Homo sapiens: one gene and its partner. The protein of the gene in region 2 interacts with the protein of the main gene of each other region in a biochemical or structural test. Each region holds a gene or a part of one and is shown on either strand. Other genes may lie near its edges.

Region 1 (5,863 bases), on a different chromosome or scaffold from region 2:
CTTTGTGTCCCAGACTTCTCCAATGATCCCCTCCATTGTTGTGCATTGTGTAAATGAGATTGAGCAAAGAGGTCTGACTGAGGTAAGAGTCAACTGTAGGAGATGGTGAATTTGTTATTTGTGTTAATTCGGAGGTTTTTAAATAAAAATGTCATCTTGATAATAGACAGGCCTGTATAGGATCTCTGGCTGTGACCGCACAGTAAAAGAGCTGAAAGAGAAATTCCTCAGAGTGAAAACTGTACCCCTCCTCAGCAAAGTGGATGATATCCATGCTATCTGTAGCCTTCTAAAAGACTTTCTTCGAAACCTCAAAGAACCTCTTCTGACCTTTCGCCTTAACAGAGCCTTTATGGAAGCAGCAGGTAAGGGCAGATGTAATACTTGAATATGAATTCCTCCACGGCAGTAGTTTTTCTTACTCTCTTTATTTTTTTATTTATTTTTTATTTTTTAGACAGAGTCTCACTCTCGCCCAGGCTGAAGTCAGTGGCGCAATCTCAGCTCACTGCAACCTCCGTCTCCCAGGTTGAAGCGATTCTCCTGCCTCAGCCTCCTGAGTAGCTAGGATTACAGGCGTGTGCCACCATGCCTGGTTAATGTTTTCTATCTTTAGTAGAGATGGGGTTTCACCATGTTAGCCAGGATGGTCTCGATCTCCTGCCCTGTGATTTGCCTGCCTCGGCCTCCCAAAGTGCTGCGATTACAGGCGTGAGCCACCGTGCCCAGCCTCTTTTTTTTTTTTTTTTAAGACGGAGTCTTTCTCTGTCGCCCAGGCTGGAGTGCAGTGGCGCTATCGGCTCACTGCAAACTCCGCCTCCTGGGTTCAAGCGATTCTCCTGCCTCAGCCTCCTGAGTAGCTGAGATTACAGGCGTTAACGGTGTTATACCATGTTAGCCAGGCTGGTCTCAAACTCCTGACCTCAGGTGATCTACCCACCTTGTCCTCCCAAAGTGCTGGGATTACAGGCATGAGCCACCACACCTGGCCACCTTCCTCTTTTTATTAGCTCCTGCCTAGTACAATGCCTGAAACATAGTAGGTGCTCAAGTAGTTTGATGGATGAGTAACTGTATGCGTGTCACCCTTGCCTATCCTCTTGCTTTCTCATTACGTTATTGTGTACAGTGTTCTTCCTTTCTTTCCTTCCTCTCCAGTTAGGTTGGAGCTTTTTCAATTCTTAGAATATACCAAGTTTACTCCCTACCTTAAGGCCTTCACATTTGTTGTCTCAACCTGAATGCTCTTACATTAGATACAGTATGGTTTGCTCCTTTATTTCTTTCATATTTCTCTTCATATACCTTGTCCCCAGAAACACCTTTCCTGACAACCTTGTCTAGATTAACAGCTCTCATTTCTTTCTAGCTTCTTGCCTGCCTTGTTTTCTTCATTTATGTATCACTCTACCTGATAGGTATTTGCTTTTTGACTGACTCCACCAATAGAATGTAGGTTCCATAAGATAAGGGCTTTGTTTACTTCTGCTTTATCCTCAGCACTTGTACCTGGCACATCGTAGGCCCTTAAATATGTCTCATGAATGAATACCTTCTTGGTAATTGTAGTCACTGCAATTGTATGCCTGTCTGCCTAGCACATCAGTTGCCAACTGCTTTCCCTAACTGCAAAGGCCGATTTTTTAAAAGTTTTGACTTCTAATATTGAGCTGTTGGCCAGTATCCTGCTTGTTAATGAAACTAGAGTCTGATGTAGTCATGAACTAATCAGGAGTTTCAGAAGCTTACTGTATAGATGAGACTTTGTGGTCGATAACTTGGAAGCCCGCTGTCAAGGGAAAGAAGTCTAGGCCTCTTGGTGCTTTCTTTTCAATTACAGAAATCACAGATGAAGACAACAGCATAGCTGCCATGTACCAAGCTGTTGGTGAACTGCCCCAGGCCAACAGGGACACATTAGCTTTCCTCATGATTCACTTGCAGAGGTGAGTACAGCAGAAACTTGTTCTGGGAGTTAGGGAATTTTTTTCCAAGGGGAAGATAATGTGGGTTGAGTGTTTGGGAGTATGAGGGATGAATTGTTTTCTTATAGAATTTATATTTTGGTCTGCATTTAAGCAAGGAGCAAGACTTCTAATTTAATATTCTTTTGCTTAGAGTGGCTCAGAGTCCACATACTAAAATGGATGTTGCCAATCTGGCTAAAGTCTTTGGCCCTACAATAGTGGCCCATGCTGTGCCCAATCCAGACCCAGTGACAATGTTACAGGACATCAAGCGTCAACCCAAGGTAGGCAGGTGCGTGTGTGTGTGTATGTGAACTTGTGTAATGTGATAACTTGAAAGACAGTTGAGAAGCCCTGAGCTTTGGAAGTTTGCTAACAGATTTGCTGGCTTTTAGGTGGTTGAGCGCCTGCTTTCCTTGCCTCTGGAGTATTGGAGTCAGTTCATGATGGTGGAGCAAGAGAACATTGACCCCCTACATGTCATTGAAAACTCAAATGCCTTTTCAACACCACAGACACCAGATATTAAAGGTAAGGCCCAAGATGTGCTTCTTCAGGGACTTGACTCTCTCTTTAGTTTTAGTCATATGACCTCTTCCTGCCTTTGCTAGAGCTGTTTGAAAATTCTAACATTAAAGGAAAATTTGTATAATTCTACCATCGTAATTTTTTTTTGCTTTTCCATGTTCTCCTTTCTTTATCCATATGGATATATGTTTTTTAAATATAGATATAATAGGCTGGGCATGGTGGCTCACACCTGTAGTCCCAGCACTTTGGGAGGGAGGCTGAGGCGGACGGATCACAAGGTCAGGGGATTGAGACCATTCTGGCCAACATGGTGAAACCCCATCTCTACTAAAAATACAAAAATTAGCTGGGTGTGGTGGCGCATGCCTGTAATCCCAGCTACCAGGGCGGCTGAGGCACAAGGAATTGCTGGAACCCAGGAGGCGGAATTTGCAGTGAGCTGAGATCCCGCCACTGCACTCCAGCCTGGTGACAGAGTGAGACTCTGTCTAAAAAAAAAAAAAAAAAAAAAAAAAAAATATATATATATATATATATATAATAGTTTAAATATAATTCATTCTTATTTCACTTAGCATGTTGTGAGAACTTTTTCTCATGTATAATCTTATTTATCATTTACTTAAATGTTCTAGTAGGTATTAACATTATTTTTCAATTTTTCATAATTACAAGTAATGCTATAGTCAATATAGCATTTCTCTTAATGATAAATTCCTAAGAGTGGGATCACTGAATTAAATGGCTTGAACATTTTTATGTGTCTTGGTATGTTTTACCAACTTGATTTATTAAATTTCTTATAGGCTTTTGCCAATTTATATTGCTAACCAACAATTTTATATGAATAGGCTGGTTTCACTCCAGTCTCACTGGCATTGGAGACCCATTCTTTCATTATTGCAAGTTCCTTCTAAGGGAGCATATTGCTTCTTCTAGTATAGCTAAAAGTCAGATGTTTAGATGTTAGATTTGTGAAGTGTGGAGTTAGAGAATGGCCTAAATCAGGACGTGTCAGCTATTCATTGAGTTCAAAAGATACACTAGTGTGTTACAGAATGATGACAAAAATGATCTCTGGGACTTTGCTAGATGTCTAACCTTAGCTCTTAAGTGCTTCAGAGGGTAATCAGCTTAAAACTAGCCATCTAAAAAGATGCCTTCTTTTTTCCCACCTCTCTTAAAAATATGTCTGAACTTTGAAGTGAGTTTACTGGGACCTGTGACCACTCCTGAACATCAGCTTCTCAAGACTCCTTCATCTAGTTCCCTGTCACAGAGAGTCCGTTCCACCCTCACCAAGAACACTCCTAGGTATGCAGAATTGGCCTTCCTAGGAAATAAAAAACAACTACTTTCTTAGACTTCTTATTATATTGAAGCTTATTGAAAGAAAAATTGCATTCGATTTTAGCTAGCAACTAGACTTTAAAAGGGAACGTGGGGCTATAAGGATTCCTTCTTTAAAAAGGTTCTGAAAGTCTTTACTATTTCCCCTCTCTCGTTGTTGGTGACTAAGAATACTTAAGCAACTATTGCAAAATAGTTGTCTAGGGTTTCCTACTTATAATGGGTTATATCAAGTAATATTATAGTTGTTTATTCAACCATTTTTTATAGAATATTTTTCCAGTTCATTCTCTTTTTATTGTAGATTTGGGAGCAAAAGCAAGTCTGCCACTAACCTAGGACGACAAGGCAACTTTTTTGCTTCTCCAATGCTCAAGTGAAGTCACATCTGCCTGTTACTTCCCAGCATTGACTGACTATAAGAAAGGACACATCTGTACTCTGCTCTGCAGCCTCCTGTACTCATTACTACTTTTAGCATTCTCCAGGCTTTTACTCAAGTTTAATTGTGCATGAGGGTTTTATTAAAACTATATATATCTCCCCTTCCTTCTCCTCAAGTCACATAATATCAGCACTTTGTGCTGGTCATTGTTGGGAGCTTTTAGATGAGACATCTTTCCAGGGGTAGAAGGGTTAGTATGGAATTGGTTGTGATTCTTTTTGGGGAAGGGGGTTATTGTTCCTTTGGCTTAAAGCCAAATGCTGCTCATAGAATGATCTTTCTCTAGTTTCATTTAGAACTGATTTCCGTGAGACAATGACAGAAACCCTACCTATCTGATAAGATTAGCTTGTCTCAGGGTGGGAAGTGGGAGGGCAGGGCAAAGAAAGGATTAGACCAGAGGATTTAGGATGCCTCCTTCTAAGAACCAGAAGTTCTCATTCCCCATTATGAACTGAGCTATAATATGGAGCTTTCATAAAAATGGGATGCATTGAGGACAGAACTAGTGATGGGAGTATGCGTAGCTTTGATTTGGATGATTAGGTCTTTAATAGTGTTGAGTGGCACAACCTTGTAAATGTGAAAGTACAACTCGTATTTATCTCTGATGTGCTGCTGGCTGAACTTTGGGTTCATTTGGGGTCAAAGCCAGTTTTTCTTTTAAAATTGAATTCATTCTGATGCTTGGCCCCCATACCCCCAACCTTGTCCAGTGGAGCCCAACTTCTAAAGGTCAATATATCATCCTTTGGCATCCCAACTAACAATAAAGAGTAGGCTATAAGGGAAGATTGTCAATATTTTGTGGTAAGAAAAGCTACAGTCATTTTTTCTTTGCACTTTGGATGCTGAAATTTTTCCCATGGAACATAGCCACATCTAGATAGATGTGAGCTTTTTCTTCTGTTAAAATTATTCTTAATGTCTGTAAAAACGATTTTCTTCTGTAGAATGTTTGACTTCGTATTGACCCTTATCTGTAAAACACCTATTTGGGATAATATTTGGAAAAAAAGTAAATAGCTTTTTCAAAATGAACATGAGGCTGGTTTTCTTGTCTTGCAAGGTAATTTTCAATGCCTTTTAGAAAATCATTTCTGGGGCTGGGCTTGGTGGCTTATGCCTCTAATCCCAGCACTTTGGGAGGCCAAGATAGGTGGATCACCTGAGGTCAAGAGTTTGAGATATGGCCAAACTCTGTCTCTACAAAAAATACAAAATTAACTGGGCGTGGTGGTGCACACCTGTGGTCCCAGCTACTTGGGAAGCTAATGTGGGAAAATTGAGCCTGGGAGGCAGAGGTTGCAGTGAGCTGAGATCGTGCCACTGCACTCCAGCCTGGGTGACAGAGTGTGAGACCCTGTCACAAAAAAAAAAAAAGAAAAAATTACTTCCTTCAAAGTGTCTTGACTCTGTTGTTCATCCCCATTTCCCACTCTCTGGACCCACCCCAGGCTTACCACCACCGGGAGTTTGTTTCTTCATTTCTCATCCAGTCTCTCTTTGTCCAAACTGGAGTTGTAGAGTTGTCCTATGCCTGTTGTCTTGTTTAAAGAAACCACAGTCA
Region 2 (7,030 bases):
GACAATTTAGCCGTGAGCTTCCTATCAGCCAAAGCAAAATAGTAAGGACTATTTGTAAGCAAAATAGTAAATTATCATTCTTATTTTCTTTCTTTTTTTTTTGAGACAGAGTCCTGCTCTGTTGCCCAGGCTGGAGTGAGGTGGCACAATCTCAGCTCTGCAACCTCTAACTCCTTCAGCAATTCTCGTGCCTCAGCCTCCTGAATAGCTGGGATTAGAGGCATGCACCACCACGCCTAGCTAATTTGTGTATTTTTAGTAGAGACGGGTTTTGCCATGTTGGCCAGGCTGGTCTCAAAAACTCCTGGCCTCATGTGATCCGCCCACCTTGGCCTCCCAAAGTGTTGGGATTACAAGAGTGAGCCACCACACGTGGCCTTTATTTTTCCAATAAGTGGAAACATTCATTAGAGAGTAGGAACGCAGATTCTTCTTGTATGCATCCTTCAGATCCTCAGACAACACGGGGATGTCTTTCTGCTAGATGGAGAAACAGTCTTCTTGTGGCTTCTGTGACTGGGCCCTCCTGTTAGACTCTGTAACTTGAAGGCAATGATCATATTGGCTTTTCATTCTCCGCCAACAGCATCTCATCCAGGGCTCTTCTCTGAGCGCTCACTGCACCTCCCTCTGATGACCACAGGCATGGGCTCTGACAGTAATAATCCTCTGTGTTAGCGTTCACACAGGAATTCCACAAAGGGAATCCTAAAGGGATTCCACAAGAAGACAGAGCCTGGGTGTTCAGGTCAGTTTTTTGTTTGTTTGTCTGTTTTGAGACGGAGTCTCAGTGGCGTGACCTCAGCTCACTGCAACCTCTGCCTCCCGGGTTCAAGCGATTCTCCTGCCTCAGCCTCCCGAGCAGCTGGGACTACAGGCGCGCACCACCACGCCTGGCTAATTTTTGTATTTTTAGTAGAGATGGGGTTTCACCATGTTGGCCAGGATGGTCTCCATCTCCTGACCTCGTGATCCACCTGCCTCGGCCTCCGAAAGTGCTGGGATTATAGGCGTGAGCCACTGTGCCCGGCCTCAGGTCAGTTTTAAATGGTCTGAGAATAGGTGCAGGTGAGTTGGGCCGTCGGTGGCAGCAGAACTGAACAGGGTCACTTCTGGCAGTGACTCCTGCAGAGCATCCCGTTCTCAACCCACCACCTCCCCATCATGTCCTCTTTCCTGGAAGGATGGCTTCTGGGCCTCCACTGCCCTCTGGGCTCCAGAGAGGAATTCAGCCCCACCACCAGCAGGTGGCCCCAAGCGGGTGGAAGTGGTAGGGAACCAAGCATACGGCAGGACTCTGGGAACACCACTCGGATATTTTACACGAATGGCGCCCCCGGAGCTGTGTGACGGGCACACGTTAGGAGACAGTTCCCGAGGGCTGGCTTTCTGCACTTTGTCCTGTGGCCCAGGTTCACACTGTCTTTTACCACCTCCCGTGTCCCAGCCACCTCTCTTGGGCCAGCTGCCGAGGCGGGCTGAGCGAGAGCAGTCACCCTTAACTAGGCACCAGCCTCCAGAAACAGATGCAAAACAGCAGCTTCTAGAATAGAGTCAAAATGTAAAATGAACCCCTGGTGGGTAACTTAGCAAAGCAGGTCTCAGACACCGGGGAGTTGGGAAGTCTCCTCACCAAACTGCACAGGGGCAGGGACACGGGGGCAGGGAGGTACCTGCCTGAGAGCCCAACTCCCAGTCATTTGCTCAGCAGCCCACCAGCCGCCAGGTGGGGCTCGGCAACTCTGGGAAGCCTCAGCATGGAGACTGGGGCCTCAGGGGGCCTGAGGAGTGCCAGGGCAGCTGTCCTCTCTGCCAGAAGCCCAGGCGGCCTCCTCGGCCTCGGTCAAGGGCCGCAAAGGGGCTTCATCACAGAGGCATCATCATAGCCCTCACCCGTGGGCAGGGTCTGGACTTACATCGGCTCACCCACCCACACAGCCGCTCTGTGGGGCACACAGGGAGGTGACCCAGTACGTCCAAGGCCATGGAGCTAATGGGAGACCAACTCAGATCCCTGGCCCGGGGCTGCTCCTTGTCCCGCCTGCGTCACGTTCCAATGACGAAGCCACAGGTACACGCAAGGCACAGGAGCCGGGTTTTCCATTTACCTTGGCCCTGGGGCTCTGGCTCAGTCCACCAGGGGTCAGGGGAGAACCTGACAGCAGGGGGCGCTCCAGGCCTGGATGTGAGACCCAGCCCAGGCCCTTTTCTCTGACAGACATTTGTGTGGTTTGCATTACCAAATGTGAGCCACGCTCCTGGGAACATTCCTTAGCGAACTTCCTGAAGAGCATGCCTCTGTGTTTCTCGTGGTATTAAAGTGGAACTGTTACTACTGGAAAGTCTCAAGAGGCTGCCCCTCAGCCTCACATTCCCATCTATAAAATGGGGATAGCGCCTATCCCACAGGGCTGCCCCAGGACAGGGGGTCCCTCTGAGGGAGGGGGCTCGGTGGAGGGGCCCACCTGGCATTGAGCAGCTCCACCTCGGTAGCCTTCTCCCTCTCCAGCTTGCCGTAGGCCTCGCGGTGGCGCCGCGCCTCCTCCTCCAGAGCCTGCTCGGCCGTGGTCTCCTGATCCTTCACCATCTCCTCCAGCTCATGCACCCTGAGGACAGCGCAATGGGCAAGCTCTTGGGGCCTGCACCATTTCACCCCAACCCAGGCTGTGGCACGGGGGACCCTGGGCCCCGAGACCCTGAGTCACTGGCATGTCCACTGAGGGCGTGTGGGCCAGTAGCTTTCAGAGAGATGAACGGGGACACCGCACATATAGAGGGGGTGTCGGTCACACATGCCATGGAGGGGCAGGCCTGGCAGTCAGAAGGTGGGGCGCTCAGGGCAGCACAGGGAGGGACCGCCCCCACCAGTCCCTGCAGCCACACCTGGCCGGAACCACCTCAGGCCTCACCTCTTCTTTTTGTGCTGTTCCTTCCCGGCCACCCCTCTGATTAATAATTCAGCTTATTGGGCACCTTGACTCCCAAAATAGGCACATCCTGGCTGGTGGCCTGAAGTCTGCCCCAGACCTGGGACAGGGCCAGGGGCACGTAGATGTGAGCACCCCAGTGACAGCCTGGTTGGTATTTCGGTCTGGGATACGTCTCACTGGCAACAGCCCCTCCACCAGGCTGACCTTCTGGGGTGTACAAAAGGGCCCATCTTTGGGCCCTGTGACAAGTTGGAGGACCGGACCCCTGGCCAGGGTATGTCCCCCAAGGGTCATGCCATCTGGTGAGGACAACTAAACCCTGAATCCACCACTGCAGACAGCATCAGGAACGGCAGGCTCAGGGGACCTCCATCAGCAGCAGTGCTGGACCCTTCCCACCGCCCAGCTCACACTGGCCTGTCCCCTGCAGAGCTTGTCCCTAGGAAGGGACGTCAGGCTCCTGTCACTGTATGAGTGAGACACAGTGGATCCCCACTCCCATCTTGGACCAGCCCTGTGGCTTCAGACCTCAGGGGGTAGAATCCATTGGGCCTAGAGCCAAGGTCAAGCTCCAACCTGTCTCCCTGTCCCTAAGGTCCTGTCCTGGGCACCACATGTGGGCAGGGCCATGTGACAAGAGGCTGATGCGTCACAGACCCTCAGAGCTGCAAAGGCATGAGGCTGCCTCCTCCTGGAGGTCTTAGCAAGATGGACCCCCCTTTGTTCCCCAGCGTCACGGCCGAGCCCCCAGCGCCGCTGCCTGCTTGACCTGTGCACCAGCTGTGTGTTCTCTTGCTTCAGCTTGCTCTTCAGGTCCCCATTGGTCAGGCTGTCATTCTCCAGCTCTGTCACCTTCTTTTCCAGGAAGCTTACCTGCAGCAGGGGGCCGGGGTGGGGTGGAGAAGACCTCTGAGGCCACAGAACCGAGAACCTCGACGCCATGAGGTTCATGAGCAGGACCTCCAAACCACTGTGTATCTGAGAACGGTCATGTGTGGGGTGGGGGAGTGGGGAACACGTGACCAGGGCCACCTGCCCCCAATTCCTAGGCAGGTACAGGGTCTCCCAAGTCCCCAGACAGTAGCCTGAGTGCACCCCATCTCCCCTGGGAGCAGGCATGCATTCAGTCCCTTCTCCAGCCACCCAAGGCCCACCTTCTCTGTGATGTCATTGTCGCAAGAGTCAATGCTGTCCCGGAACAGGTCTTCGGTGCTGCCATTGCTGCTGCTGAAGTTGCTGCTGTGCATGAGCTGCCTGCAGGGGTGGGAGGAGGGTGTCTGGCTGCAGGGGCCTTCCAGAGACAGGGGCCTACTCACACTACTGGCTAGGCGAGCATCCAGTACCCCAGGGGGTCTGCCCCTTTAAGGAGGCTGCCCTCACTCAGCCTGAGAGGAAGAATGTTGCCAAACTCAGCGGATCACCCCGCCCAGAGGATGGCAAATGGGCTGTACAGACCCCCGGGGTCCCCTGGCAGACACAGCCAATGACGCACAGCTTCTCCTGCGGCCTCAGAACCCTCTTCACGCCAGCATGCTGGCCTGCAGCTACCCAGTGACCTCAGCTGGCACGTGAGCCCCCTCCTCTTCCAGTGGGGAAGCCCCCAAGGAGGTAGCCCAGCTCCATGGCCCTGGAAGAGGGTCTGGGCCTCCTGAGGCTTGAGCCTCTCCACCAAGCTGGCTCCTGCTACGTCTCTGGGAACTCTGGGGGATGGCAAAGGCAGAGAATTCTCCAGGCCTTGCAGAGCAGTGAGCTGGGGTGGGACTGGGCCTGCTGAGCTAACCCGTGCCTGAGGCAAAATCCAGCTGCCACCCCCAGTGACATCCCCTTCCAGCTCCCTGATAGGCAGCAGCCAGGGTCTCTGCCAAGAGGCCAACCCACCTAGCTCCTGGGCCCTTGCTGCCAGCTCCCAGAGCCCTGAGTGTGGACCTGGGGCCACACTGAACTGCCGCAGGACTTAATCGGAGCAAAGTGACCAGCCCCAATGGCGCACACTCATGCCCAGATCCCCGCCTGCAGGAAACCCGGGGTCTCTTTATTGAGTATGGCTGCCAGCTCCAAGAGGCAGGAAGGGCACTGAACGCTGTGGGGTGCTCTGTCTCTCTCAGGGCATCCCTGGCATGCCTGCCTGAAGTCAAGGTGACCTAGGATTTGAAGAAGGGACAAGGGGTGGGGAGAGAGCAGGGAGGAGCTGGCCCCTCTTTTTCAGAAGTGACGCTGCCCTGGCTGCACTGCCCTGGGATGGCCTCGTTCCCCTCTGCTCACTCAGCCACATGCGGGCACCAGCTGAGTCCGGGCTGCTGGCAGGGAGCCCCGGCCAGTGGGCAGCATGGGGACAGCACTCAATTTGCCCTCCCTCGAGGCGGGCCTTACCGTCCAAAGGCCGTGCTGGAGATCTTTCGGTTGGGGCTAGAGAGAGAAAGGAAACAGTCATTGAACAGAGGGGTTCTAGTCCACTCCCTTACTCTGTCCTAGCTGTAAGACACCACAGTGCAGGACAAGGCTCTTCCCTCCCACTGAAAGGAATTCACTAGTCAGCTTGGTCCTGAGAAGAAACAGCCTGATTTCCTGTGGCAGAAAAAGCCCCTGGATCAACCCTCCTCTGAGAGCTCTCACCTGCCCAGACAGCAGGGGTCGCCTCGCCATGCCCGTAGCTTCTCCCTCCAGGCCCTGCCCTGGCCCCCCGGCCTCTCACCCCCCAGCTGGGCCTGGGCCTCACCTGTTGGCCTTCAGGTTTTTCAGTCGGGCTTCCAAGTCATTGAGCAGGTTGATTTTCTTGCAGCATTGAGAGCAGTAAACATCTAGCAATTCGCTGTTGTACACGTGCCGCATTTTCCTAGGCGTCTGCCCCGCACTGATTCATGAGGGAAAGGAATCACCACCTTAACTGCTGTCCAGTCTGGTGCCCTACACCACCCTGCTGAGCTGACTTTACTTGAGTCCCCAGTACCTTTGAACCTTGTTACGGGGGAGGGGCAGGGAGTGGAAATATAGCAACAGATCATCCCTTCTCCAACACGCTCAAAGAGAAGCCAGTGAGGCATACCCATTTAACAGCTAAGGCAAACTGCGAGCTCATTTCAGAGAAAGTGGTGACTCAGGTGGGTGAGAAGGGATCACAGGGGTCACTTGGAAGGATGCTTCAACACTGAGGTTCTAGGATACAAGATGACACAGAGCCCCGTGGCCCCCAGTGTGCAGCCTCCTAGGTCAGTTAATTCAGGAGGAACTCCTGACCCCTAATCAGGGTGCGAAGGTAGCAACCCCAAGCCCCAGGAGCAGAACTCAAGTAGCTGAGGACAAAGGAAAAGGGCCAGCTCAGGACTCGCACCCCCCCACCCCCTAGGATGTGCTTAAATTGCTTCTGCAACTTTTGACCCCAAATGACATCCCAGACCAAGGGGCCACCTGGAAGACACCGAAGACCCCAGGTCCGAGTAGACGTTGGTCCTGGTCTCATCATCGGGGCAAGGGCTGCTGGGGGCACAGTCCACATCGTCACCCTCCCCATAGTCTTCAAACTGCTCCTCATTGCTGATGAGCGAGGTGGTGGAGTGTGTAGAAAGGTCTGAGGTCGTCATGGATGGAGTGTGGACCAGGGACCTGAGGGTCCGAGAGCACCCAAGTCAGAGGAGGACTCATGGGTCCCCAGCCACAGCCCGTGGTGGGGAAACTGACAGGCATTTCCCTTTAATTGGCACTACCGATTAAGTTTGTAGCTCTTGACCTGGTAAGTACATTTCAGGGACCCTATCTAAAGGGAAACATCTCACCACAGAAACCATTTCTACAGTTCAAACCAATTCTACCCATGCTACTCCACAGTAGCAAAACACTGCTTACAACCTAATTGTCTAGCTACAGCTAGATCAAATTATAATTATTAAATTATAATGTTAGTAAATTATTAAATTGTGGAATATCAAATAGTTGTTGAAAGGTTTGTTAAAACATTTGTAGTAGTGGCAGGCGCGGTGGCTCACGCCTGTAACCCCAGCACTTTGGGAGGCCGAGGCGGGCGGATCAGAGGTCAGGAGATCGAGACCATCCTGGCTAACATGGTGAAACCCCAACTCTACTAGAAATACAAAAAATTAGCCGGG

The links. Proteins that work in one complex are often made in the same cells at the same time.
Region 1: the proteins of RAB11FIP4 (region 2) and RACGAP1 form a complex in vitro, tested with the Homo sapiens proteins (one study listed by IntAct).

Annotation. Positions count from the first base shown.
Region 1 is NC_000012.12:49,988,633-49,994,495, reverse strand, and holds the end of RACGAP1 (rac GTPase-activating protein 1), read left to right. Parts: coding exon 1-82; intron 83-166; coding exon 167-365; intron 366-1,840; coding exon 1,841-1,946; intron 1,947-2,118; coding exon 2,119-2,251; intron 2,252-2,362; coding exon 2,363-2,498; intron 2,499-3,703; coding exon 3,704-3,812; intron 3,813-4,152; coding exon 4,153-4,228; 3' UTR 4,229-5,334; downstream 5,335-5,863.
Region 2 is NC_000017.11:31,520,666-31,527,695, reverse strand, and holds part of RAB11FIP4 (rab11 family-interacting protein 4), read right to left. Parts: intron 6,531-7,030; coding exon 6,336-6,530; intron 5,782-6,335; coding exon 5,647-5,781; intron 5,337-5,646; coding exon 5,301-5,336; intron 4,185-5,300; coding exon 4,085-4,184; intron 3,804-4,084; coding exon 3,700-3,803; intron 2,607-3,699; coding exon 2,466-2,606; intron 1-2,465. UniProt on the Homo sapiens protein: Acts as a regulator of endocytic traffic by participating in membrane delivery. Required for the abscission step in cytokinesis, possibly by acting as an 'address tag' delivering recycling endosome membranes to the cleavage furrow during late cytokinesis.